Homo sapiens: one gene and its partners. The protein of the gene in region 1 interacts with the protein of each later gene in a pairwise test. Each region holds a gene or a part of one and is shown in the gene's direction. Other genes may lie near its edges. The genes, in order: HSF2BP, PAK6, INPP5J, IQCC, COIL, ZNF844 and USP20.

Region 1 (3,500 bases):
GTGTGGGGAGCGTGTGTGGGGGGGGAGTGTGTGTGCCTGTGAGCCTGTGTATGTGGGATCGTGTGTGTGGGAGCGTGTGGGTGTGTGGGAGCATGTGTGTGTGTGGGAGCGTGCACACGCACATGTATGCATGCGTGCAGGCATTTGTCAGGGAACTTCACAGAAGGGGATAAATTTGAAATGGGCCTTGATGAATAGGTAGAAATGGCAGAAAATGGGTGGGTTTGTTTTAGGACAGTGAGTAGGTCAGTTGACACAGTGGAGAGTTAATGTCATAGAGTAGTGGGGAGGTAAAGCTTAAACGTAGGTTGGGATGTGACTTTGGGACCTTGAATACCAGGTTGGTGATTCATTCTGTAGGTGGGAAGACTGGATTTTCCCTAAGGGTTTTTCAATAAAAGTGATAGGATAAGAGCAGAATTTTAGAAAGATTCACCTGACAGTGGGTGAGGATGGATTAGGAGGTGGAGTTGTGGCACATCGCGTCTACACAGGATGACTGATGAGGTGGTCATTCTAGCTGGTCTGGCTGGAGTGAGCTCGGCCCTCTGCAGGGGAGATGGGAAAGAAGGAACATGTATGAGAGCTGTGGCAGTTGAGGCAGATGCGATGGCCGGGCAGAGTGGGCACCTGGAGGGGACAAGAGGAGCCAAAAAAGATCGGTGTTTGACTCTGGGAGCATGGCGTGATCATGACTGGAAATGAAGGTGAAGAGGGGGACGTGTGGCAGGAAACCAGTGAGAAATTAGTTACTGCTAATAGAAATAACAGTTGTGTTTGACTTTAGGTGGAAAGACTAAATGTGTTTTTAAAAGTTTGTTGAGCTTTATTAGGTTTAATTTACATACTGTAAGATTGTAAATGTACAATTTAGTGGTTTTTAGCAAATTTTTAGAGTTGCATTAACCATCACCACAACCCAGTTTTAGATTATTTGATCATCCATGAAGTTTTCTTATATCATTTGTAAATGCAAATATTTCCAATTTTTTAACTGGGTTAAAATGTACATTGGTTTTAAAATTCTTCTTCAGAACTCTAGCACCCCAAAGGAAGTAACTCAAAGGTTCAAACTTGGAAATGCTTTTTGCCAAGTGATGAAGATTTAAACTACCAGAGGAGCCAGTCTTTACCTCTTTTACATGTTTTCATTAAGATTTTTTTTTTTGAAAAAAGTTATGCTAAAGGTTTGAACACCTCTGGTTTAATGCCCAGAGCAAATAGGCAGCATGTTTTTCTAGTATATTTTTATTACATTTTGAGTGAATTCTTCCCATTTACTTTCATCATCATGTACATTTGTCCTATATCATATTTATGCGTGTGAAGAGTCCACCAATCTTCAGGGTAGTTTTTGTTGCTCCTGCATGCCTCAAGCTGCTTTCTCTGTTCTTTTAATGGGAACTTTTAATGAGGGAATAGATTTTACAATATTCTACAATTAAAACTAGAATCTTCTGTATCCTGCACTTTTAAAATGTTTTCACACTAGTGTCTGTAAAAAGATATGACACTCTGATTTTCAAACTTTCAGGATAAAGCTTTGAAGTTTTTCAGCATCACTGGTCAAACAATGGAGAGTTTTGTGAAGTCGTTAGACGGTGATGTCCAGGAGCTGGATTCGGATGAAAGTCAGTTTGTTTTCGCTCTGGCTGGAATTGTCACGAGTAAGTGCAGGCGCACCTGAGAGATGTTGCCTGTTTGCTTCCAGACCACTGCAGTAAAGCAAATACTGCAATAATACATGAGTCACATGAATGTTTTTGGTTTCCCAGTGCATATACAAATTATGTTTACACTATACTGTAGTCTGTTGTATGTACAATAGCATTATGTCTAAAAAATGTACAAACTTTAATTAGAAAATTCATTATTGCTAAAAATGCTAATGATCATCTGAGCCTTCAGCAAGTTACAATTTTTTGCTGGTAGAGGGTCTTGCCGTGATATTGATGACTGCTAACTGATCAGGGTGGTAGTTACTGAAGGTTGGGGTGGCTGTGCCAATTTCTTAAAATAAGGAACAATGAAGTTTGCCACATTGATTAATTCTTCCTTTCATGTAAGATTTCTCAGTAGCATGTGATGCTGTTTGATAGCATTTTTTCCACAGTAGAACATCTTTCAAAATTGGAGTCAGCCCTCTCAAACCTTACTGCTGCTTTGTCAACTAAGTTTATGTAATATTCTGAATCTCTTGTTCTTATTTCAACAATGTCTTAGCATCTTCACCAAGAGTAGATTCCATCTCAAGAAACCACTTTCTTTGTTCTTCCATAAGAAGCAACTTATCCTTTTTTTCTGCCACCACGTCTGTAGTTACTTACTCCACTGAAGTCATGAACCCTTCAAAGTCATCCATGAGGATTGAAATCAACTTCTTCCGAACTCCTGTTAATGTTGTTATTTTGACCTCCTCCCATGAATCATGAATATTCTCTTGTTGCCCAGGCTGGAGTGCAACGGCGTGATCTCGGCTCACTGCAGCCTCCACATCCTGTATTTAAGTGATTCTCCTGCCTCAGCCTCCCAAGTAGCTGGGATTACAGGCATGCGCCACCATGCCCAGCTAATTTTGTATTTTTAGTAGAGATGGGGTTTCTCCATGTTGGCCAGGCTGGTCTTGAACTCCTGACCTCAGGTGATCTGCCCACCTCAGCCTCCCAAAGTGCTGGGATTATAGGCATGAGCCACTGCGCTTGGCTGAATCATGAATATTCTTAATGGCATCTAGAATGGTGAATCCTTTTTAGAAGGTTTTCAGTTTACTTCACCCAGATCCATCAGAGGAATCACTGTCTATGGCAGCTGTAGCGTTATGAAATGTAGTTCTTAAAAAAAATAGGACTTGAAAGTTGAAATTTCTTTTTGATATATGAGCTGAAGAATAGGTATTGTATTAGCAGGCATGGAGTCAACATTACTTTCCTTGTACCTCTCCATCATGGCTCTTGATTGACCAGGTGCATTGTCAATGAACAGTAGTGTTTTGAAAGAAATCTTTTTTTCTGAGCAGTAGGTCTCAACAGTGGGCTGAAAATATTCAGTAAACCATGCTGGAAACAGGTGTGCTGTCATCCAGGCTTTGTTTTTCTATTTCTAGAGCATAGGCAAGAGTAGATTTAGCATAATTCTTAAGGGCTCTAGGATTTTCAGAATGGTTAAATGAGCATTGGCTTCAATTAAAGTCACCCGCACCATTGGCCCCTAACAAGAGAGTCAGCCTGTCTTTTGATGCTTTGAAGCCAGGCATTGACTTTTCTCTAGCGGTGAAAGTCCTAGATGGCGTCTTCTTCCAATAGAAAGCGACTTTGTCTACATTGAAAATCTCTTGTTTAGTGTAACCACCCTCGGCAGTGATCTTAGCTAGATCTTCTGGATAACTTGCTGCAGCTTCTCCATCAGCACTTGCTGCTGCACGTTGTTTTTATGTTATGGAGACAACTTCTTTCCTTAAACCTCATGAAGCAACCTGTACTAGCTTCCAGCTTTTCTTCTGC
Region 2 (3,500 bases), on another chromosome or scaffold:
CTCAGATCAGCAAAGAGGAGCTCTGAGGAGGAAAAGGCTGCCCCAGGAAAGAGCTGGCCATCTCAGATTGCTGTAGCACATTCAAGCCAAAGGGAGTCCCCGGAGGATGTTTCGTCCAGCCCCCATAATTTTAGAGCGGGAAACAGAGGTCCAGAGAAGGAAAGTGGGTCCTGAGGCCACACAGCTAACTAATGGCAGAGTCAGTTTCCAGCCCAGGGATCCCCAGCTGCCTGCCCAGCACTCTTGCTACCCAGGCTGAACCCCCACCCCCGTGCTACCAAGGGGCCCATGCAGGAGCAGGCAGCAGCCACTGGGTAACTTGATGGCTTGGGAGAGGCGGCCTGGCCTGACACATTGGGAGGCTGGGCAGGTCCCCGCTTTGCTCCTATTGTGCTATTTGGGTGCCTCCTGCCATCCCCCTGCATTCTGCTAGACCTGAAACCACAGCCCAGCCCACGCTTGTCAGTCAAGTGCTTCCCGAGGATAAACTTTGCACACAGCACCCAGGCCACTCTTGGGGACCAGGCCACTCTCTGTTGAAGAGATCTAACTAATTTATAAATTGATTGATTGAAGTTCTTTTTGTCCCAGGTAACTTCATGTCTTAGGCCAAAGAAGGGAGTCATGATGAGTGCCAGAGATGAAACGGAGATTCTGGGGCAAAGGGTAGGGGAGGCACCTGGGAGGCCCTGTTCTTCAGGTGATCTTCTCATTAGTGTAGACTTTTGACCCCAGGCAGACATTTACATGTCCAATAGCCACCATCAGAGGTCAGTTCCCAGAAGCAGGAGGCCTGTCACTTGCCACCGGTCACCAGGCCCAAGCTAGACAAGAAGACTTTTTCTATTCCACTAGAGTGGATCTTGCTGATGATGTGTCTGGGATCCAGAAAGGTGGGGAGAAGTAGAGGTCTCAGCTCCTGGGGAGGGATGGAGCCAGCCCCGGGGGAAGAATGCAAGGCCGCCAGTGAGCAGGCATTCAGGGCTCCTGTCGAGGAGAGGGTGGTCAGGACAGGAGGAGGGGCTGCCTCATGGATGATGAGGTCCATCATCCTAGCAGAGGCTGTTGTACCAGCCACTGACGAGGGTGTGGCAGTGGTGTTACCAGAACCCTGCTATGTCAGCGTTCAAATACATGTCCCAGCAGGCCAACCACCCCTGCAGCAGTCAAGGGGTTCTGTCCGGTGTGTGCCAGAATGCTAGGGAAGAGAGGACCCTGAGAAGGATGGCAGCATGGCACAGACACGCCATGTGGCAGTTAGACAGGTCATGCCTTCTGACCCAGGGCACATGCAGAGGTCCACAGACTCTGAGGCCAGCTAGTTAGTGTTCCCAGGGGGCTGCACAGCCCAGAGCCTGTGAGTTTTGTGCATCTGGAGCTAAGGTGTTCTGCCCAAAGTGTTGGAGGTGGGCCTCAGGCAACAAATACCCTGCTTCCTCACATCCCCTTTTCTTCCTTGGAGCTTGGGCCTGGGCCCTCACCTAGTCAGGCACAGGCCTCCACTCCCCCACACTCACCTGTCCTTCCTGAAAGTCAGCCACTGGGCTCCACGCAGGGGTGTCACAGTCAGAGCCCTGCTCCAGCCTCAGACCTGGGGCAGTCACTGGAAACTCAGAAGAGAGAAGACAAGACAATGAAAGTTTCCCATTCAAGGAGGCATCCAGCTGTTAGTTCTGCCAGCAAAAATGCCAGCCAGAGAGCTAAACTGCCAGCAAAAGATATTTGGATGGAACTTTGGAGGCCATTAAGAGCAGGCACTGCAAAGCAATTGTAGCGAAAAGATATTAAATGAATCCATCACGTCTCTAAAATGAGTGTCCTTACCACAGATCTGGCTCTTGCTGTTCCCCAGCCCTTCCCAGGGTAGCCCAGGATGCACCTGGGACGGGCGCCGCAGCCTGCAATGGTCCCTGCATCTGAGGAGCTCCTCCCAGGTCACCAGGCTCCTTGGGACTGTCAGGCAGGTTTAGCCCCCAGTGTCAGCTTGTGTTTGGGGAGGATGGTTTTATATATTCTCGTTGGCACAGGAAGCCTAGTACAGATGCAGAACCTGAGGGAAAGGCAGGCAGAGAGAGAGAGGCTCGAGGTTCTGCTGAGGCCCAGGGTATCAGCAGGGCACATCTGTACAGCAGCCGGGCGGGGACCCATGGACTTTTCCAAAACACCTAACCAGGCCCTAGACAGTGCTACCCCCTGGCGCTGGGCTCTCTTTCCGGAACCCGGGGTGAACAGACCTGTTGGGTTGATTTAGTAGCAAGTGGTAGCCTTGTTTTCTGGACGAATCCTGGGATTCTACTCCATGGCACATCAAACCAAGCTCCAGTGTGCATGCCCAGGGTCGGGGAGGGGAGCTTTCTCCTTGGTCCCTTCTGCAGCTGTGAGGGCTGAGGGTTAAGAACCTTTCACCCCGTTTGGGGGTGCTGCTCCTCCATAGCCCTGTACCCCAATGCTCTAGACTTCATTATTCCACCACCTTCCCCAGGGCGGGAGGTACTCTTTCCATTACATGCATCAGGAAACTGAGGCCAGAGACATGCTGTAAGTCTTGCGAGGCAAGAGGGCTCCCGTCCGCAGGACTCCATGGCTCTGCAGCTAGACTCCGTCAACTTCCCTCCTGCCTGGGGACCCCAAGGGCCTGGCAGTGTCAGCTCCCTCGGCTCACACTTCCAGATGCTCGGAGGTTCAGAGGTTTGCACCTCCCTCTTGGTCCCATCAGCAGAGAGAGATGGGTGGTCCCATCAGGGTGAGGAGCAGGAAGAAGCAGGTGCTGGACAGCCTGGAGGAGAGGGGGAGGAAGGGATTTTCTCCCAAGAGTGCCTCTCTCCCAGGCTTCGGGCTCCAGGGTGAGTGGGCAGCGACCCCTCTAGGAGCCCCAGCTCCACAGGGCTCCTCCTGCCAAGCATCCAGCACACGTGCCCCCACCTCCCCGGCAGGTCCTGCTTGAGGGCCTGAGGCGACTGGGCCATCTGGGTCTGTGAAGGGCAGATGTGGGATGCAGGAACTTCAGGCAGGGTGCTGGCTTGTGGCCAGGAAAGCCTAGCACCTGATTCCTAGCAGGGAACTCAGTGACAGAGTGGGGGAACCTGAGGGCCCCTCTGCCCCTCACACCCAGTGCCATGTGGGGGTCCTCGCGTGTTACACAGAAATAGGAAGGGACGGTCCTCCTACCCGCACCCCAGCCCTCTTGTGTCTCACGTGACAGCCTGCCTGGGCAGTGATTTTTTTAAAACACAAATGCCTTATATTAAGGTCTGAGTTGGTCTCTCCCCACTGCCCGTTCAAACATTCCATGGCACCAGCAGCCTCTAAGCAGCAGAGTTGAGAGAACCAGCTTTGGGGTCGGATACACTTCCGTTCAAATTCCAGCTCCTCCCCTCAGTAACTGGCTTACTTAGTCTTTCTGGACTGGATAACAAAATACTATGGACTGGTGGCTTATAAACAACAGAAATTTATTTCTCACAGTTCTGGAAGCTGAGAAGCCCAAGAGCAAGGTGCTG
Region 3 (3,500 bases), on another chromosome or scaffold:
CCCTTGGTCAGCTCAGCCTACCTGGAAGAGCGACCCCGGCTTCCGGTGAGGGGGCCCTCTCCCAAGAAAGGTGGCTGGGGCTTAGCTCTGAGGTTAGCCATTCTTCCAGGGTGGATGGTGTGCTCTACCTCAGCTTCTCTCTCTGAGGAAGAGTCTTTGGGGAGGGGGTTGCTGGGCCCACTCTGTGACGCTCAGAAGATAGCATCCCCTCCTAAGGAACTTGCCGCCTCTCAGTTGATCTCCCCAGGGAGAGTGTGGCAGAGGGACAGGATTCGGGGCCTCCTGTGGGTCCTTCTTAGGGCTTTGGCCCACACCTGCCTCCATTTAGTTCCCCAGGGAGTCCTGTGAAAGGAAGCTTGAGGGTGAGGGAGTGGTGCCAGGACTACACCCTCATATGCCCCTGCCCTCAGGATCACTGTGGTCACATGGAACGTGGGCACTGCCATGCCCCCAGACGATGTCACATCCCTCCTCCACCTGGGCGGTGGTGACGACAGCGACGGCGCAGACATGATCGCCATAGGGTGAGGTGGCAGGGCATGTGGACCCCCTCCTGAGCCCCTCGGGCCTTCCGGGCCCTCCACCCATGGCAGGGGCTTCCAGGGCACCTCTCCAATCCCATGGCCACCCTGCCCCCACCCCTCCAGGTTGCAGGAAGTGAACTCCATGCTCAACAAGCGACTCAAGGACGCCCTCTTCACGGACCAGTGGAGTGAGCTGTTCATGGATGCGCTAGGGCCCTTCAACTTCGTGCTGGTAACGCACCCCTCACCCCCTGGACAGCCAGAGACCCTGCTGAATTCCTGGCTCCAGCTGTACCCTGGCTCACTGTGGGGCCCGCTGGGCCTCTGTGGCTGGGTCCGTGACATGGGTGGGTGGAGGAGCAGACCTGAAGGTGGGCGCGAGGGCGGGGGAGTTGTGTTCTGTCCCCCAGCCACGTGGCCTCCCGCTGCAGGTGAGTTCGGTGAGGATGCAGGGTGTCATCCTGCTGCTGTTCGCCAAGTACTACCACCTGCCCTTCCTGCGAGACGTGCAGACCGACTGCACGCGCACTGGCCTGGGCGGCTACTGGGTGAGCCTGTGAGCAGGCCCAGAAGAGGATGGGACATGAAGGGGGCTTTAGATTAGTCCCCCCGCCCCATGCACAGCAAGGTCCCCTTCCCATCCTCCACCCTTTACCCTGCGGCCCAGCCCCCCCATGCACCACCCAATACCCCATCCTATTCCTCTATACCCCCGCCCTTTTCTCTCCCCACTGTGTCCCAGCGTTGTTCCTCATTTCTGTAGGACCCACCCACCTTCCACCCACATCTCCTCTCTAACCCCCGCTCCCAGTGCCTCACCTCCTGGCCTAAGCCCCGCCCATGAGCCATCCGACCCTGCCTCCCTAGGGTAACAAGGGTGGCGTGAGCGTGCGCCTGGCGGCCTTCGGGCACATGCTCTGCTTCCTGAACTGCCACTTGCCTGCGCATATGGACAAGGCGGAGCAGCGCAAAGACAACTTCCAGACCATCCTCAGCCTCCAGCAGTTCCAAGGGCCGGGCGCACAGGGCATCCTGGATCATGAGTATGGGCTGGGGTGGGGCCAAATAGAGCTTGGGTGGGGCTAGTGATGGGGGTTTTTGTACCACCTTGGGTGGGGCTTATGGAGAGAGGCAGGGCCTATGGGGTTTAGTGCCCACCCAAACTAGTTGTAGGAACACGAAAGCAGAGAGCAGTTGGATGGGGAGGGGCGGAGCTTGTAGGGTGGAGCTTTGCTGAGGGGCCCCGCCTTGCTGAAGGTCAGAACCTAATTTCCTGTAGACCGGTCCCTCTGCTTTTCCTCTGCCCTTTGGTGGGCTGGAGGCTCTGGCACCACTCACCCACTCACTACATCCCCTCGGGTTGGATGGGCTGGAAGGATCTGGGCTGAGCCCTTATCCTCCATGGACCTGTTGACACCCCCCACTGCCCCCCACATCTCTCCCATCCCCCACCCCAAACAGCCTCGTGTTCTGGTTCGGGGACCTGAACTTCCGCATTGAGAGCTATGACCTGCACTTTGTCAAGTTTGCCATCGACAGTGACCAGCTCCATCAGCTCTGGGAGAAGGACCAGGTGGGGTCCTTGTCCCCAGAAGCACACAGAGCATGTCCCAGGACACGCCTGTACCTTAGACTATGGTCCCTGTCCTCACCTGCCCCACCCCCTCCCTGGGCACAGCAGAGCCCAAGCTGTTGTCCAATCTGCTCTCCTGGACCCCCCACAGCTCAACATGGCCAAGAACACCTGGCCCATTCTGAAGGGCTTTCAGGAGGGGCCCCTCAACTTCGCTCCCACCTTCAAGTTTGATGTGGGTACCAACAAATACGATACCAGGTGAGCTCAGTCCGAGGAGGGACTGAGGGGAAGTGGGCTGAGGTCTTCTCGAACAGGGAGACTTTGGGAAGAGGGGCAGGAGGCAAGGTGGAGGGTTACATCTTGATCCCCAGCCCCTGAAACTTGGGGTACCCCTGCTCACTGCAGTGCCAAGAAACGGAAGCCAGCTTGGACAGACCGTATCCTATGGAAGGTCAAGGCTCCAGGTGGGGGTCCCAGCCCCTCAGGACGGAAGAGCCACCGACTCCAGGTGACGCAGCACAGCTACCGCAGCCACATGGAATACACAGTCAGCGACCACAAGCCTGTGGCTGCCCAGTTCCTCCTGCAGGTGAGTTCTGGCCTCATCCTCCCCGCATGAAATCCCCAGGCCCAACTCGGCATACCACTGCCCCTCACCATTACCCTTTGTATAACCCCTTGTACCTGCCCTCAGCAGCATCCATTTGTTGTAACAGTGGAAATGGGGTTGCAATCTACATTTTCAGATGAGGAAGCTGAGGCTCAGACACATGGCATCACCTGCCCAGGGTCACCCAACTAGTAAGAGGAACAGTTAGGATTTGAACCCAAGTGAGTCTGGTTTCAGAGCCCATGCCTTTTCTTTTTTTTTTTTTTTTTTTTTTTGAGACAGAGTCTCATTCTGTCACCCAGGCTGGAGTGCAGTGGCACGATCTTAGCTCACTGCAAGCTCCGCCTCCCGGGTTCAAGTGATTCTCCTGCCTCAGCCTCCTGAGTAGCTGGGATTACATCACCCGCCACCACGCCAGGCTAATTTTTGTATTTTTAGTGGAGACAGGGTTTCACCATGTTGGCCAGGCTGGTCTTGAACTCCTGACCTCCTGATCCACCCACCTTGGCCTCCCAAAGTGCTGGGATTACAGGCGTGAGCTACCGTGTCTGGCCAACTTTTTTTTTTTTTTTTTTTTTCTTTGAGACGGAGTCTTGCTCAGCCGCCCCAGGCTGGAGTGCAGTGGCACAATCTTGGCTCACTGCAACCACCATCTCCTGGGTCCAAGCGATTCTCCCGTCTCAGCCTCCCAAGTAGCTGGGATTACAGGCACCCGCCGTCATGCCCGGCTAATTTTTGTATTTTAGTAGAGACAGGGTTTCACCGTGTTGGCCAGGCTGGTCTTGAACTG
Region 4 (4,193 bases), on another chromosome or scaffold:
GAGGAGGACGATGAAGAGGAAGAGGATGGGGTCACTGAGGGGCTGCCAGAGGAGCAGAAGAAGACAATGGCTGACCGTAACCTGGACCAGCTGCTTAGCAATGTGGGTTCATGTCTGGGTGCTTTGGTTCCTGGGGGCATGAGGGGTGGAGAAGGTACATACTCCCAAAGCCATTCCTGGGCCCTGGGTGAAAAGGTGGGAGTGCATGGATCCAAGAGCTCTGGGCCCCTCAACCTCCCCAGAAGATAGCCCCCAGAGCATTGGGGATTTGGCCTGGTTCCCCTCCTAACAGAAGCCTCCCTTTTTCTCTTTGTTGGCAGCTGGAAGACCTCAGTAATTCTATGTATCCTTTCCAAGGAACCCGTCTATGTGTGTGTGTTCCTGAGAGGTCAGTTTCCTCCTCTCCAGCCCTCCAGGAGTATTCACACACAACCAACTTCCCCACCTCTTGCAGTCCTGTCAGATTTAGCCACAGACTGCCCAAACCCAGGTACAGGAATTTAGAATTTCCCCAAAATTAGAAGAAAAGTGGTTGTAGGGGATGTTTTACTACTGATCAAAATCTTTGTGAGTACTTTAGCTGACATCAATCATAGCAAAGCTTGTCCGATGTCCTCCTATCCTTTCAGCATTGAACAATTATTTTTACTAATTTACACTACCACCTCACCTGGTCCTCAGTCAGAAACAGCGCGAGTGCGCGCGCACACACCCCAGTGTGTCTGACCTGCACGATCTGGATGAAGAGAGAGGGGGTGAGAGAGGGCAGGCGGGGACTGCAACCTCAGTCCACAGACGGCCCGAGACCCTCGTCCCCGGCCCTTTGCACAGGTGAGGGAACTAAACCTGTGCAAGATGGGAGACCGGGGTGGGAGGAAGGACTGGTCCAAAGCGCCACGATCCTTGACGGGCACAGCCAGAAGCTGCACCTGGCCGAGAACGCCGAGCCTGAGGAGCAGTCCGCTGCGTAGGCGTCCCACGCAGGCCCACACTGCCCCTCTCATTCTCTTCAAACTGTGACTTTTTACAGACTCGGGCGGGTGTTCTGCGGCCCCCCAGGTGCTATGGGGGAGGGGGGCGTTGAATGGAATTAAACCAGAAAGAAAGCAAGCGGCTCCGTGTCCTGCTTCCCCTCCTTGCGCCTTTCCTCCCGGTCTCCGCGGAGACAGCCCTCGGTTATGGAGGTACCGCCTGCGGGATTGGAGTGCCCCTTGCGGCTGTGGGAGGGGCAGTCGGGGGCTGGGGGGACGCAGGTACGCCTGTCGCCAGGACGCCTCTACCCTGGACGGTAGGAGGTTGCCGTGGGAACGGCTGGGGCAAAGCCCACGCCCGCGCATGCTCAGGAGCGACGCCGACCAATGACGTACTTCGCAGGCGCGCGGGCGGGCCTGGCAGTTGGCGCCCATGGAGCCAGAGCTGCTGGTTCGGAAGGTGTCTGCATTGCAGGTGCGGGGGCGGGCGCGGGGTTCACAGGATTTTTCCTTTAGGGAAATCATGGGGTCTCGTACCTGGACCTCCCAGCGAGATGCTACCACGTTCAGTCCCCTAACTGCGCGCCAACCTCTGGAGATACCGGCTGTCCCCAACCGCGCTGAGGAAAGCTGGGACCCACGGACTCCCTGCCCTGCGCGTCCCCACTCCCACCACACGCTCGCGCCGGATCAGGGAAACGGGAAGAGCCTTAAGGCGAGGAGGGGCATCCAGTCTGGCATCGTCCCTCGAGCCCCCCGGAGCCCTAGCGCACAGCCCACCTATCCTTTCCCCGCCGTCAGGTCCCCTCTTGCATTCGCCGGGACGACCTCTTCAGGACAGTCCTCCGAGATGCCCCCTCTCTTACCGTGATAAGGGACTTCTTTCCTCTCGTTCTCCATACCAGGCCTGCGTCCGGGGCTTCTTGGTCCGACGCCAGTTCCAGAGCCTGCGAGCTGAGTATGAGGCGATTGTACGAGAGGTCGAGGGCGACCTGGGCACGCTTCAGTGGACCGAGGGCCGCATTCCCAGGCCGCGATTCCTCCCAGAGGTAGAACACACCTAGGAGAGAAGGGAAGGAGGGACTTGGGCAGGGTGGAACCCACCCTTCCCAGTGATAAGCTTTTCTCACTGGAAGAGGCAGTAGACTCACCTCCTCACACCCCACTCCTTAACCCTCACCAACTTGTCTGCTAGATCATGGTGCCCAGATACTTGGAAGGGTTTAGCCCTGGGGCTCTCACATCTCTCTTGTTTCTCAGAAGGCAAAATCCCATCAGACCTGGAAAGCAGGAGACAGGGTAGCAAATCCAGAGCAGGGGCTGTGGAACCACTTCCCATGTGAAGAGTCTGAGGGAGAGGCCACCTGGGAGGAGATGGTGCTGAAGAAGTCAGGAGAGAGCTCAGCAAATCAAGGAAGCCTCTGCAGAGATCACAGCTCCTGGCTTCAGATGAAGCAGAACAGGAAACCCAGCCAAGAGAAGACCAGAGACACGACAAGGATGGAGAATCCAGGTACCTCTCTGCAAAGATCAGGGCAAGCCCCTGACCCTCACTGTGCCTCAGCCTCCCATCTGAAGAGTGAAAGGCTTGCGCTAGATAAGCTGCATCCCTTTCCCGTCTTCCCTCTGCCGGGATAGGGCCACCACATGGTTGGGCAGTGCAGGGGAGGGAGTTTCCAAAGTCTAAGGCTAGGCCATTTCCCAGGGTCTGGTCCCTCAAGGTTTTCTCCTTCCTTTCTTCCCTCCTTCACAGAAGCCACAGATCAAAGACTGCCCCACAGCCAACCTCAGCTTCAAGAGCTTCAGTACCACCGCAGCCACTTGGCCATGGAATTGCTGTGGCTGCAACAGGCCATCAATAGCCGTAAGGAGGTAACACTAACCTGGAACTCTTTCTGAACATTTAGGGTCAAGGGTGGGGGTTAGGGAGAGACGACCTGCCATGCCCAAGCAGGCCTGCTTGGTACAATGTATGTTCTCTCCCCCAACAGTACCTACTTCTTAAACAAACACTGAGATCCCCAGAGGCGGGCCCGATCAGAGAGGAACCCCGCGTGTTCCTAGAACATGGGGAACAGGCCTGTGAGAGGGACCAGTCACAACCAAGCGCACCACTGGAGGACCAGTCCTACAGAGACAGGACCACTGGAGAGCTAGAACAGGAGGATGACTCCTGTCACAGGGTCAAATCACCCCACAGATCCCCAGGAAGTTTGGCCACTACACAAAAAAACATTGCTGGGGCTAAGTGCAGAGAACCATGCTACAGCAAGTCTGGACCACCGTCGTCTATACCATCAAACAGCCAGGCCTTGGGGGACAGGCTCACCAAAGGGCCAGACGATGGAAGACAGACCTTTGGAGGGACCTGCCTGCTGCAGATGAAAATCCTGGAGGACCAGACCCCCAGAGGTTTAAAACCTAGGAACCATTGTCCCAGGAAGTCCAGGACACAGCTGTCTGCACTCTATGAGGACTCAAATATTAAGGAGATGTCTCCCAGAAAACTAGACCACAAAGAGCCTGACTGCCGAACAGTCAGGACACAAGAGTTGGGCCTCTCAGAGGACCACATCATCTGGGATGGTACCTTGGGGGGGCCAGAGCATAGTGTCCTCGATCTCTGGAGGACTAAACCACCCAAAGGCCAGGCCCCCACTGATAGAAGCTCCAGAGATGGAACCTCCAATGAGCCTAGTCATGAAGGACAGAAAAAGCAGAGGACTATACCATGGAGATCAAAGTCACCTGAGATTCTGTCTTCTACAAAGGCAGGCTGTACAGGAGAGGAACAGTGGAGGGGCAGGCCATGGAAAACAGAACCACCTGGCTAGACCCTAGGAAGCCAGGAGAGGATCAGGTTCCAAAGGGGAATGCTATGAAAGGGCAGTGAGACAAGACCTCATCCTACCTCCCTGACCAGCTCTGGCTTCTGCTCCTGCCCCTGGCCATTGGTGACTAGTGGGGCCAAGAGAAGCTGGAGCAGAGAGCTGGCATGAGTATAGGGAAGGAGGAAGGACACATTTTCAATCCTCTGCCTGTAGCTCAATCCAAATTTGTGGATAAGGGGCCGGGTGCAGTGGCTCACACCTGTAATCCCAGCACTTTGGGAGGCCAAGGTGAGTGGATCACCTGAGGTCAGAAGTTTGAGACCAGCCTGACCAACATGGTGAAATGAAACCCCATCTCAACTAAAAATATAAAAATTAGCCAGGCGTGGTG
Region 5 (3,500 bases), on another chromosome or scaffold:
GGAGATGTGTTTATAAATTGCTCACTCTAGCTTTCTCTCTTGTTCTTTTGACAGAGTTAAATTAGAAGAGAGAGGAGTTGCTGAGAATTCTGTAGTCATCAGTAATGGTGACATTAATTTATCTCTTAGAAAAGCAAAGAAGCGGGCATTTCAGTTAGAGGAGGGTGAAGAAACTGAACCAGATTGCAAATATTCAAAGAAGCATTGGAAGAGTCGAGAGAACAATAACAATAATGAGAAGGTCTTGGATCTGGAACCAAAAGCTGTCACAGATCAGACTGTCAGCAAAAAAAACAAGAGAAAAAATAAAGCAACCTGTGGCACAGTGGGTGATGATAACGAAGAGGCCAAAAGAAAATCACCAAAGAAAAAGGAGAAATGTGAATATAAAAAAAAGGCTAAGAATCCCAAGTCTCCGAAAGTACAGGCAGTGAAAGACTGGGCCAATCAGAGATGTAGTTCTCCAAAAGGTTCTGCTAGAAACAGCCTTGTTAAAGCCAAAAGGAAAGGTAGTGTAAGCGTTTGCTCAAAAGAGAGTCCCAGTTCCTCCTCGGAGTCTGAATCTTGTGATGAATCTATCAGTGATGGTCCCAGCAAAGTCACTTTGGAGGCCAGAAATTCCTCAGAGAAATTACCAACTGAGTTATCAAAGGAAGAACCCTCTACCAAAAATACAACTGCAGACAAACTGGCTATAAAACTTGGCTTTAGCCTTACCCCCAGCAAGGGCAAGACCTCTGGAACAACATCTTCCAGTTCAGACTCTAGTGCAGAGTCAGACGACCAATGCTTGATGTCATCGAGCACCCCGGAGTGTGCTGCGGGTTTCTTAAAGACAGTAGGCCTTTTTGCAGGAAGAGGTCGTCCAGGCCCAGGGCTGTCATCACAGACTGCAGGTGCTGCTGGATGGAGGCGTTCTGGCTCAAATGGTGGTGGACAGGCTCCTGGTGCTTCTCCCAGTGTGTCTCTCCCTGCTAGTTTAGGAAGAGGATGGGGTAGAGAAGAGAACCTTTTTTCTTGGAAGGGAGCTAAGGGACGGGGCATGCGGGGGAGAGGTCGAGGACGAGGGCATCCTGTTTCCTGTGTTGTAAATAGAAGCACTGACAACCAGAGGCAACAGCAATTAAATGACGTGGTAAAAAATTCATCTACTATTATCCAGGTAAGTATTATTTTTTGTAAGTTATCTCCTCCCTTTCCCCTTAGAATGTGTGTGGAGTTCATGTCATGGATTCACATTTTCTCACCAGTGATGATGTCACATGACTAACACTGTTTTTCAGAATCCAGTAGAGACACCCAAGAAGGACTATAGTCTGTTACCACTGTTAGCAGCTGCCCCTCAAGTTGGAGAAAAGATTGCATTTAAGGTATATTTCAAAAGAACAGTCACAGCAAAAAAGGTTCATTCCCCTTCCAAATAAACTTACTTAGAAAATCAGGTTAAATGTGTTTGTAAAAGCCCTTCCCACTGGAACCCCAGTGTTGTTACGGGTTCCTGGTAGGGCTCCCAGACTGGTCGGGGTGGACACGCCAACATGGCATGATGGAGGAGCTGTGGGAATGGGAGAGGATAAGAGGGCTTATGTATTTGTGGGTTTTTTCTTCTTTTTTAGCTTTTGGAGCTAACATCCAGTTACTCTCCTGATGTCTCTGACTACAAGGTAAGGATGTTTATTTAAAAGTAAGTTGTCAGTGTATTATTAAAACTAAAGTCATATTTAATACTACTTGTATGGATAATACAGATTTGTTTTTTTACTAAATAAAAATGCCAGAAAGTAGAAAATGAAAACATTAATCGAAATGTCAACTCTTTAATAGTATCACTGGGAAGTCTCCCTGTGTTATTTGCCTTATACTTGGGAAGAATAGAGTAGGAGAATGATGAGCTTAATTTTTACTTTTTTAAAAAAAATATATTAATTTTTTGTTTTTAAATAGCGACAGGATCTTGCTATGTTGCCCAGGTTGGTCTCAAACTCCTTGGCTCAAGCAATCCCCCCATCTTGGCTTCCCAAAGTGTTGGGATTACAGGTGTGAGCCACTATGCCCAGCCAGTTTAATTTTTTTAGTTACTTTTTTCTAATTAGTTTAGACCAACTTATTTGGGTATTCATTCCTTCATGATTCTAAACTTTGAAAGAAAATAATAAATAGTTCTCAGCAAGAAGATTTGATTATTTTCATCATGGGAATCTATTTTACATATTTGTGAATTACTTCTGGTTGTTATGATCTAGTATGATTTCTTCTGCATTATCAGGTAACCACAGGTAATTCATAAATATTATCCGTGGAATTTACTTACTTAATATCTGTATGAGTCTTTATATTGGCATGTGAGGTTTTTCATAGTTCAGTAAAAGCTTGACTCAGTCAGAGGGATCACAGAATTACATGTTTCTTTTTCACCCACCAACATTTTGTTGAAAATCTTGTTAAAGTGCATTCTTTCTTTTTTTTGATGTACTATATGGAATGTAAGACCATTTTTTAAGGTAATAATTGGTAGTGTTAATATAGTAACATAGATAAAATACAAGGGAATTTGATTTAATCTGGATTGATGCCTTGGAAGACTTAAAATCTTTATAGAAACCTTTCCTCAAGGCTGGGCTTGGTGGCTCCCACCTGTAATCCCAGCACTTTGGGAGGCCAAGGTGGGTGGATCACGAGATCAGGAGATTGAGACCATCCTGGCTAACACAGTGAAACCCCGTCTCTAGTAAAAATACAAAAAAAAAAATTAGCGGGGCATGGTGGCGGGTGCCTGTAGTCCCAGCTACTCAGGAGGCTGAGGCAGGAGAATGGCGTGAACCCGGGAGGCAGAGCTTGCAGTTAGCTGAGATCACACCACTGCACTCCAGCCTGGGTAACAGAGCGAGACTCCATCTCAAAAAAAAAAAAAAAAAAAATCTTTCCTCAAAAGCAGGCTGGAAGAATCAGTTAATGAAGGGATCTGGTGGGTTAGTTCTAGGTCGTTGGTGTTTTGTTTTTTATCTTCTTAGGCACTTACTATCTCCTATGGATGAGGTGATCATGTAATTTATCACCTGAATCAGGATACTTGTGAGTCAAAGGGATGCTATTAATAGTTATGCTGGAAAGATGTACAGACCTGTCTTGAACAAACCAGGGTGTTTTGTCACCCTACCATAGAAAACATTTAATTGTGTGATATATGAGGAAATGGAAATGAATATTGTATTGATACATCCCACAACCTCTATAAATTGTAATTCTAGATGATACTGATTTTTAAAAATTGCTTATTAATGGCCAGGCACAGTGGCTCATGCCTGTAATCCCAGCACTTTGGGAGGCCAAGGTAGGTGAATCACTTGAGGTCAGGAGTTCGAGACCAGCCTGGCCAACATGGCAAAACCCCATCTCTACTAAAAATATAAAAATGAGCCTGGCATGGTGGCGTGCACCTGTAGCCCCAGCTACTCAGGAGACTGAGGCACAAGAATCACTTGAACGCAGTAGGTGGGGGT
Region 6 (3,500 bases), on another chromosome or scaffold:
GTATTTTAATTGCTTACCATTTTTTTCCACAAAGCAATAAGTGGTGGGTATATTCAACCCATTTTCCATGTGCCCCGAGAATACTCTTGTCTCTAATCCTAATGTAACATCATATACGTTTTTGTTATATTAGGATTAGAAACAAGTTCTGTTTAGAAATTTTATTTTCACATTGAAAGTCAATCAGATTTGCTTCAGCTTTAAAGAGTATGCTTGTGTAAAATTCAATGAATGCTGGCAGCAAGCTGCACTTTTTTTTCTAAATGGGAAATGGGTTAAAAATGTATTACTTTATGAATACTGTTCATGAGAGGAAAGCACTCAATAACCACTAAAAACTACATTATATAAATCCTTGTGCCTGATGACTCCTGGTCCACTGACGTTTTCATGAGCTTCTTGGCCCTTTTCATATATCTTGCAGGAATGTCATTCAGATACTTTCCCTATCTTTCAATCAATTAGGTTTTTTTTTTTTTTTTACTTGGTACAATAATTTATTATTGTAAAAAAATTAACATTTATTAGCTTTAGGAATTTTACATGTACTGTTGAGTTAGTTTGTCAAATCTATATAACTCGTCTAAGATGAATAATACTGTATTTTTGTGACTGGCCTTTTGCAATCAGTATAGAATCCTGAATTTTTTTTCTTTTTTTTTTTTTTGTTTGTTTGAGATGGAGTCTCACTCTCTCACACAGCCTGGAGTGCAGTGGCATGATCTTGGCTCACTGCAACCTCTGCCTCCTGGGTTCAAGCTGTTCTCTGCCTCAGCCTCCCAAGTAGCTGGGATTCCAGGCATCCACCACCATGCCCAGCTAATTTTTGTATTTTTAGTAGAGATGGGGTTTCACCATCTAGGCCAGGCTGGTCTTGAACTCCTGACCTCGTGATCCACTCTGCCTCGGCCTCCCAAAGTGCTGGGATTACGGGCATGAGCCACTGCATCCAGCTGAATCCTGAATTTTCATGCTTTTTGTAGCATGGGACAGAAAGTTATTTTGTAAGACTAAATACTATCCCATTGTAAGTACATGCATACCACGTTTTCTTTATCCATTTAGCCATCAGTGGACATTTGGATTGATCCATCTCTTGGCTATTGTGAACAGTGGTTTTCAAATATTTCTTCAAAGATCCAACTTTCAATTTATATGAATTGAATATAAATAGACCCAGAAATGGGTTGCTGGAAGAAAATTTTTTTTTTTTTTGCTAGTTTTTCAGGCACCACCATACTGTTTTCCATAAAGATTGAGCCATTTTGCAATCCTTTGGTCAGAGCACATGGGTTCCAATTTCTCAACGTTTTTTCCAAACTTTATATTTGAGGTGGTTTGATTTTTCTTTTTTCTTTTTCTTTTTTTTTGAGATAAAGTCTCAGTGTTGTTGCCCAGGCTGAAGTGCAATGGCGCGATCTACGCTCACTGCAACCTCCGCCTCCCAGCTTCAAGCAATTCTCTGGCCCCAGCCTCCTGAGTAGCTAGGATTACAGGCACCCACCACCATGCCTGGCTAATTTTTTGTATTTTTAGTAGAGACAGGGTTTCACCATGTTGACCAGGCTGGTCTTGAGCTCCTGACCTCAGGTGATCCACCCACCTCGGCCTCCCAAAGTGCTGGGATTACAGGCATGAGCCACCGCGCCTGGCCTTGATTTTTCTTTTCTTTTTAGTTGAATGTAAGAATTCATTATATTTTCTGAATATTGAGACTTTTCCAGATATATGACTTTCCAATATTTGCTCCAGCATCATGGGGTGCCTTTTCCATCTGTTTATGGTGTCCCCTCATAGACAGAACTTTTAAATTTTGATAAATATTTGCCTTTTTGTTAAGAGTGGGTGCACTGGAGTTTTTATCCCTGAACTTTGTCTCCATTCAGCCTTCAGCATTTCATCAATTACAATTTAAGTTTTCCTACCACAGTCTGCTTTTTTTTTTTGAGACAGAGTTTCGCTTTTGTTGCCCAGGCTGGAGTGCAATGGTGCGATCTCAGCTCACCGCAACCTCCGCCTGCCAGGTTAAAGCAATTCTCCTGCCTCAGCCTCCCGAGTACCTGGGATTACAGGCATACACCACCACGCCCAGCTAATTTTGTATTTTTAGTAGAGACAGGGTTTCTCCATGTTGAGGCTGGTCTCGAACTCCTGATCTCAAGCGATCCGCACGCCTCAGCCTTCCAAAGTCCTGGGATTACAGGTGTGAGCCACCGCGCCCGGCCCACAGTACTGTTTTTCACAAAATTTCTATTCATGAGTTTTTTATTTAGATAGTTCTGCCTCTCTTATCAGTTGGGTTGGTTGAACCCCTTGCAAAATCCAGTTTTTTTTTTTTGCTTTTGTTGTCTGCTGCTTCAATCAGAATAAAATCCCCCTTCCAGGTAATCTTCAATGGTTAAACTTTGTGAACAGGCATTTTCAAGGATATATAGCCTCAGGACTGCTAATGTTAACATTTTCTGCAGGTGAATTTAGAGGACTGTGTTATGACAGGTGCTATAGACCCATGCTACAAACAGACATTAAGAGCAGCCCAGGCAGCGCACCTTTCTCCCTGGATTCCATGAAAAGACACATTTTTCTATTCTGCTGTTCGTTTATTGCTTAGTTCTGTTCCAGCATCAGAATTGCTTTAGAGAAGAAAGTAAGTGTAGACAGAGAGTAATGGGTCAGATGACCAAGAAATAGAATAAATGTTTGGAGTCCACAGCATCATGGGAACTTCTTAGGAAGAGGGTATAGACCCCCAGTGCTGTCAGTCTCACCCATCCTCCTCTATACATGTGGGATGTTTCAGGACTTGGTGGCTTTCGAGGATGTGGCTGTGAACTTCACCCAGGAGGAGTGGTCTTTGCTGGATCCTTCCCAGAAGAATCTCTACAGAGAAGTGATGCAGGAAACCTTGAGGAATCTGGCCTCCATAGGTAAGAATGACAGTATTACGTCCCCCAGTGAATGAGACAAGTGTTTCTAGCTCATTAATGCTATTCCTTGATTTGGAATATGGACAGGCAATACTTTGATGAATAAATGAGGTATGGCTCTAATGTCCCGTGAACATAGAATCTAATCATTTTTTCATAATTTTATTTTAATTCAGGATTCTTTTTCTGATTCTGTATTTTAGGAGAAAAATGGAAAGACCAGAACATTGAAGATCAGTACAAAAATCCCAGGAATAATCTAAGGTGATTTAAACTCACGAGACAAAGCAATGTCTCTCTAGAAAATCTCAGAATGCGAGAATATGTTAAGAAGAAGCAAATAAAGGAAATATGCCTAGCATTAAATTTATTTACTCTTAAAATATTCACTCTAAAAACCTACATTTAAATGTGATCTAGGCTGGGCACAGTGGCTCACACCTGTAATTTCAACTGTTTGGGAGTTGGAGGTGGGAGGATTGCTAGAGGCCTGGAGTTTGAGAAGAGCCTGAGCAAAATGGCGAGACTTCATCTCAAACAAAGAACTAGCTATACATTGTGGCATATACCTGT
Region 7 (3,500 bases), on another chromosome or scaffold:
AGAGTACCCTCCCTGCCCTGGGTGAGAACCACTGGGCTCTACAGACTGCCCAAGATAAAGCAGGAAGTGAAAACCAAGGTGCAAACCAGGACTCAAGTGTGACTGTGTTTAGAAGAGGGACTTCTGTGAGGGAGCTGAGTGCAGGCGAGGCTCCTGGCGCACTCCCTCCCTGCCACGCTACTTCTAACAGGGTTAGGACGTGTTCCACTCACAGGGAGGGCCTGGTGAGAGACACTGAGGGACGCCCGTGCTTTGTGGCCATTAGGAAATGATTCTGCTGCCTGGGCATGGTGGCTCACGCCTGTGATCCCAGCACTTTGGGAGGCCGAGGCAGGTGGATCACTTGAGCCCAGGAGTTCAAGACCAACTTGGCCAACATGGCGAAACCCCATCTCTACAAACAATACAAAAATTAGCCAGGCATGGTGATGTGTACCTGTAGTCCCCGCTACCTGGAGGGCTGAGTGAGTTGGGAGGATCACCTAAGCCTGGGAGGTTGAGGCTGCAGTGAGCCGTGATCATGCCACTGCACCGCAGCCTGGGCAATAGAGTGAGACCCTGTCTCAGAACACAAACGAAAAAGAGACTGTCAGGGCTGGGCCTAGTGGTATGCACCTGTGGTCCAACCTACTCAGGAGGCTGAGGTGGGAGGATCACTTGAGCCCAGGAGGTCAAGGCTGCAGTGAGCCATGATTGCGCCGCTGCACTCCCGCCTGGGCACAGAGTGAGACCACCCCCCATCTCGAAAAAGAAAATGCTCCTGTCAGAAGGAGAGCTGCCTCTCTGAGCAGATAGGCACATTCTATTCAACCGGAGAAAATTAGCATCTCCCAGGCCGGGCGCAGTGGTTCATGCCTGTTATCCCAGCACTTTTGAGAGGTCGAGGTGGGCGGATCACCTGAGGTCAGGAGTTCAAGACCAGCCTGGCCAACATGGCGAAACCCCGTCTCTACTAAAAACACAAAAAGTAGCCAGGTGGTGGCACACACCTGTAATCCCAGCTACTCAAGAGGCTGAGGTGGGAGAATCGCTTGAACCTGGGAGGCAGAGGTTGCAGTAAGCCGAGATCGCGCCACTGCACTCCAGCCTGGGTGACAGAGTGAGATTCCTTCTCAAAAAGTAGAATCTCCCTTGTGGTCTCAGTTGGGTCAAACAGTTATTGAAGAGACCCACAAAATGTTACCACCGTCCTCTCTGAGTGATGGGTGTGTTCATTTTGTTTGAGCTTGTCTGGGGGTTTGATTTTTCACCTTGAGTATCTGGTGTTTTTGTAAGACTCTTGGGTGAGGGACTGGGGCGGGGGCATTTGGGAAATCCTTGCTGAAGGTAAATAGAGACTGACCTGCCCTCTGTCTCCTCCCGTCCCTGCCCGCCTGCCAGTTGAACAAGGCCTTCCAGGCCGAGGAGTCGCCGGGCGTCATCTACTGCATCAGCATGCAGTGGTTCCGGGAGTGGGAGGCGTTCGTCAAGGGGAAGGACAACGGTGAGCTGAGGGGGGACCTGGCACTTACCTGCCCTGGGGGCCTCCTGGGAGATGGGATGCTGGCAGGGGAGGGCTGGCACACAGGGGCTCCTGCAGGCCCCATGCCTGCCCCCAGGTGCCACCCATCCAGGGTGAACAGAGAGCATGGGGCTTTGCCAGTCCCCAGTGGGGATCACTGTCCCCACCCAGAGGCAGGAAGCTGCTCCTGCTCTGCGCCCCCTGCCCTTCTCCACTCCCTGCCATGCCCAGCAAGCTGCTCTGCCCTCCTGCAAGGCCCTTTCCTCAGGGGAGTGTGTCGCCCGAAATGACAGATTTGTCATCTGACTCCTTGGATTTACAGAGGTGGAGACAGGCCCCATCACAAGCTCCCAGGGTCCCCCAAGTCCCCAGTGAAGAACAGCAGAACCAAGCCATGGAAGCCCACAGGCTCTAAACTATTAAACCTGCATTAAAAATTTCGGCTGGGGCGCCCTCGGGGCATAATCTAACCTGTGGCTCCGGGGCCCGGCAGGGTGGGTAGAGCCCACGGTTCTGCTCACGGGACCCTTGGTGTGGAGCATGAGCACCCACCTGTGCTTGGGAAGGGAGGCCTCATTGCCATCCCGCTAGTCGGGGAAGGTGCCAGGGCCACCGTGAGGCCTCTCTGGTGGTGGCTGAGGCCTTCAGCATGGCTGTGGTTGAGAATGTAGCTCCGGAGCCCTCGCCCTGGCCTGGACGCTGGCCTTGCCTTCTACCAGCTATGACCTGAGTGGTTACTTCACCTTCCCAGGCCTCGGCTCTGTCTCTGTAAACCTCTGTCTTGTCCTGTGGTTGCCGAGGCTAAATGAGATAGCTGGGCAGAGGGGAAGGGGCGTGGTGAGCGGCAGCTGCCAGCAGAGATAAGGGCATGGGCCATCCACCGCAGCTCCTGCGGCCAGCACAGAGTCTGAGACCATCTCGTGTGTCCTGGAAATTCCCTCTGCTGGGTCCTCAGACTGCCACAGAGGAGCATTGGGTGGCTCAGGCGCCTCATCCATTAGAGACTTCACGCTGACCCCCAGGCCTGGGGCGGCCCCACTTGGGATGGCTCTGCTGCTGTGGAGGGTGGAGGGCATGGCAGGGGCTGAACCCGAGCCCGCTGTGTCTGTTGCAGAGCCCCCCGGGCCCATTGACAACAGCAGGATTGCACAGGTCAAAGGAAGCGGCCATGTCCAGCTGAAGCAGGGTGAGTTCCCCCTGGGGTCAGCCAGGCTCCTCTCTGCCCTTCCTGGCTGCCAGGCTGCTGCCCAGTCCCGTCCTTCCAGGAGCCCCCTTACCACCTGTCTTAGAGTCAGGCTGAGACGTCCACCTGAGTCCAGACCCAGGCGGCTGAGAGATGGCCCAAGGGGCTTGGTCTCTGCTTGTGTCCTCCAGGTCCCACCCCTCTGCCTGCTGCTGGCCTTGCCCACCCTGCTGTTTATGTCAGCCCCACCCCCAGGAACAAGGGACACAGCCAGAGATGTGTTATCCGGGGCCCTTAGCGGGATGGACATTCCTCTGGGAAATCCTGATTTCCATCTGACAGCTTTGCATAGAAGCCCTGGTTGCCGTCTTCCCGCTTCGGGGCCTGGCCCTGCGGAGCCCCCACTGCCCAGGCCGGTGGCTTCCTTGAGGAGGCAAAGGTGAGCCTAGGGGTGCCTCTCGTGCCCTGCAGGAGCTGACTACGGGCAGATTTCGGAGGAGACCTGGACCTACCTGAACAGCCTGTATGGAGGTGGCCCCGAGATTGCCATCCGCCAGAGTGTGGCGCAGCCGCTGGGCCCAGAGAACCTGCACGGGGAGCAGAAGATCGAAGCCGAGACGCGGGCCGTGTGATCTGCTGGGCTAGTCTGTAAGTCGCCCCGGCTGGTCCCTCCATGGCACTCTGGGTCCTCTCCTCACTCTCCAGAGACCCTCACATGTCCTTTTGAACATCCAAAGAGCAGGTCCCTGAAAGCACCTTCCTGGAGGATGTGGGAGGGCCCTGGACATGGCCCGGCCCCACTGCTGAGTGCCCGTG

The links.
Region 2: the proteins of HSF2BP (region 1) and PAK6 interact in binary tests that used the Homo sapiens proteins (3 or more experiments, as listed by UniProt).
Region 3: the proteins of HSF2BP (region 1) and INPP5J interact in binary tests that used the Homo sapiens proteins (3 or more experiments, as listed by UniProt).
Region 4: the proteins of HSF2BP (region 1) and IQCC interact in binary tests that used the Homo sapiens proteins (3 or more experiments, as listed by UniProt).
Region 5: the proteins of HSF2BP (region 1) and COIL interact in binary tests that used the Homo sapiens proteins (3 or more experiments, as listed by UniProt).
Region 6: the proteins of HSF2BP (region 1) and ZNF844 interact in binary tests that used the Homo sapiens proteins (3 or more experiments, as listed by UniProt).
Region 7: the proteins of HSF2BP (region 1) and USP20 interact in binary tests that used the Homo sapiens proteins (3 or more experiments, as listed by UniProt).

The regions. Positions count from the first base shown.
Region 1 is NC_000021.9:43,628,489-43,631,988, reverse strand, and holds part of HSF2BP (heat shock factor 2-binding protein), read left to right. Parts: intron 1-1,534; coding exon 1,535-1,667; intron 1,668-3,500. UniProt on the Homo sapiens protein: Meiotic recombination factor component of recombination bridges involved in meiotic double-strand break repair.
Region 2 is NC_000015.10:40,245,563-40,249,062, forward strand, and holds part of PAK6 (serine/threonine-protein kinase PAK 6), read left to right. Parts: intron 1-3,500. UniProt on the Homo sapiens protein: Serine/threonine protein kinase that plays a role in the regulation of gene transcription. The kinase activity is induced by various effectors including AR or MAP2K6/MAPKK6.
Region 3 is NC_000022.11:31,125,966-31,129,465, forward strand, and holds part of INPP5J (phosphatidylinositol 4,5-bisphosphate 5-phosphatase A), read left to right. Parts: coding exon 1-45; intron 46-328; exon of another isoform or gene 329-410; coding exon 411-524; intron 525-647; coding exon 648-756; intron 757-955; coding exon 956-1,072; intron 1,073-1,391; coding exon 1,392-1,567; intron 1,568-1,809; exon of another isoform or gene 1,810-1,985; coding exon 1,986-2,097; intron 2,098-2,248; coding exon 2,249-2,358; intron 2,359-2,505; coding exon 2,506-2,689; intron 2,690-3,500. UniProt on the Homo sapiens protein: Inositol 5-phosphatase, which converts inositol 1,4,5-trisphosphate to inositol 1,4-bisphosphate.
Region 4 is NC_000001.11:32,204,278-32,208,470, forward strand, and holds the start of IQCC (IQ domain-containing protein C), read left to right. Parts: upstream 1-1,393; 5' UTR 1,394-1,404; coding exon 1,405-1,446; coding exon of another isoform or gene 1,447-1,686; intron 1,687-1,876; coding exon 1,877-2,020; intron 2,021-2,231; coding exon 2,232-2,484; intron 2,485-2,724; coding exon 2,725-2,843; intron 2,844-2,962; coding exon 2,963-3,805; 3' UTR 3,806-4,193. Other genes in the region: CCDC28B (coiled-coil domain-containing protein 28B), read left to right, coding at 1-102, 321-521.
Region 5 is NC_000017.11:56,947,551-56,951,050, reverse strand, and holds part of COIL (coilin), read left to right. Parts: intron 1-54; coding exon 55-1,162; intron 1,163-1,283; coding exon 1,284-1,370; intron 1,371-1,616; coding exon 1,617-1,664; intron 1,665-3,500. UniProt on the Homo sapiens protein: Component of nuclear coiled bodies, also known as Cajal bodies or CBs, which are involved in the modification and assembly of nucleoplasmic snRNPs.
Region 6 is NC_000019.10:12,071,231-12,074,730, forward strand, and holds part of ZNF844 (zinc finger protein 844), read left to right. Parts: intron 1-2,800; coding exon 2,801-2,927; intron 2,928-3,130; coding exon 3,131-3,191; intron 3,192-3,500. UniProt on the Homo sapiens protein: May be involved in transcriptional regulation.
Region 7 is NC_000009.12:129,876,958-129,880,457, forward strand, and holds part of USP20 (ubiquitin carboxyl-terminal hydrolase 20), read left to right. Parts: intron 1-1,380; coding exon 1,381-1,483; intron 1,484-2,615; coding exon 2,616-2,687; intron 2,688-3,155; coding exon 3,156-3,316; 3' UTR 3,317-3,332; exon of another isoform or gene 3,333-3,500.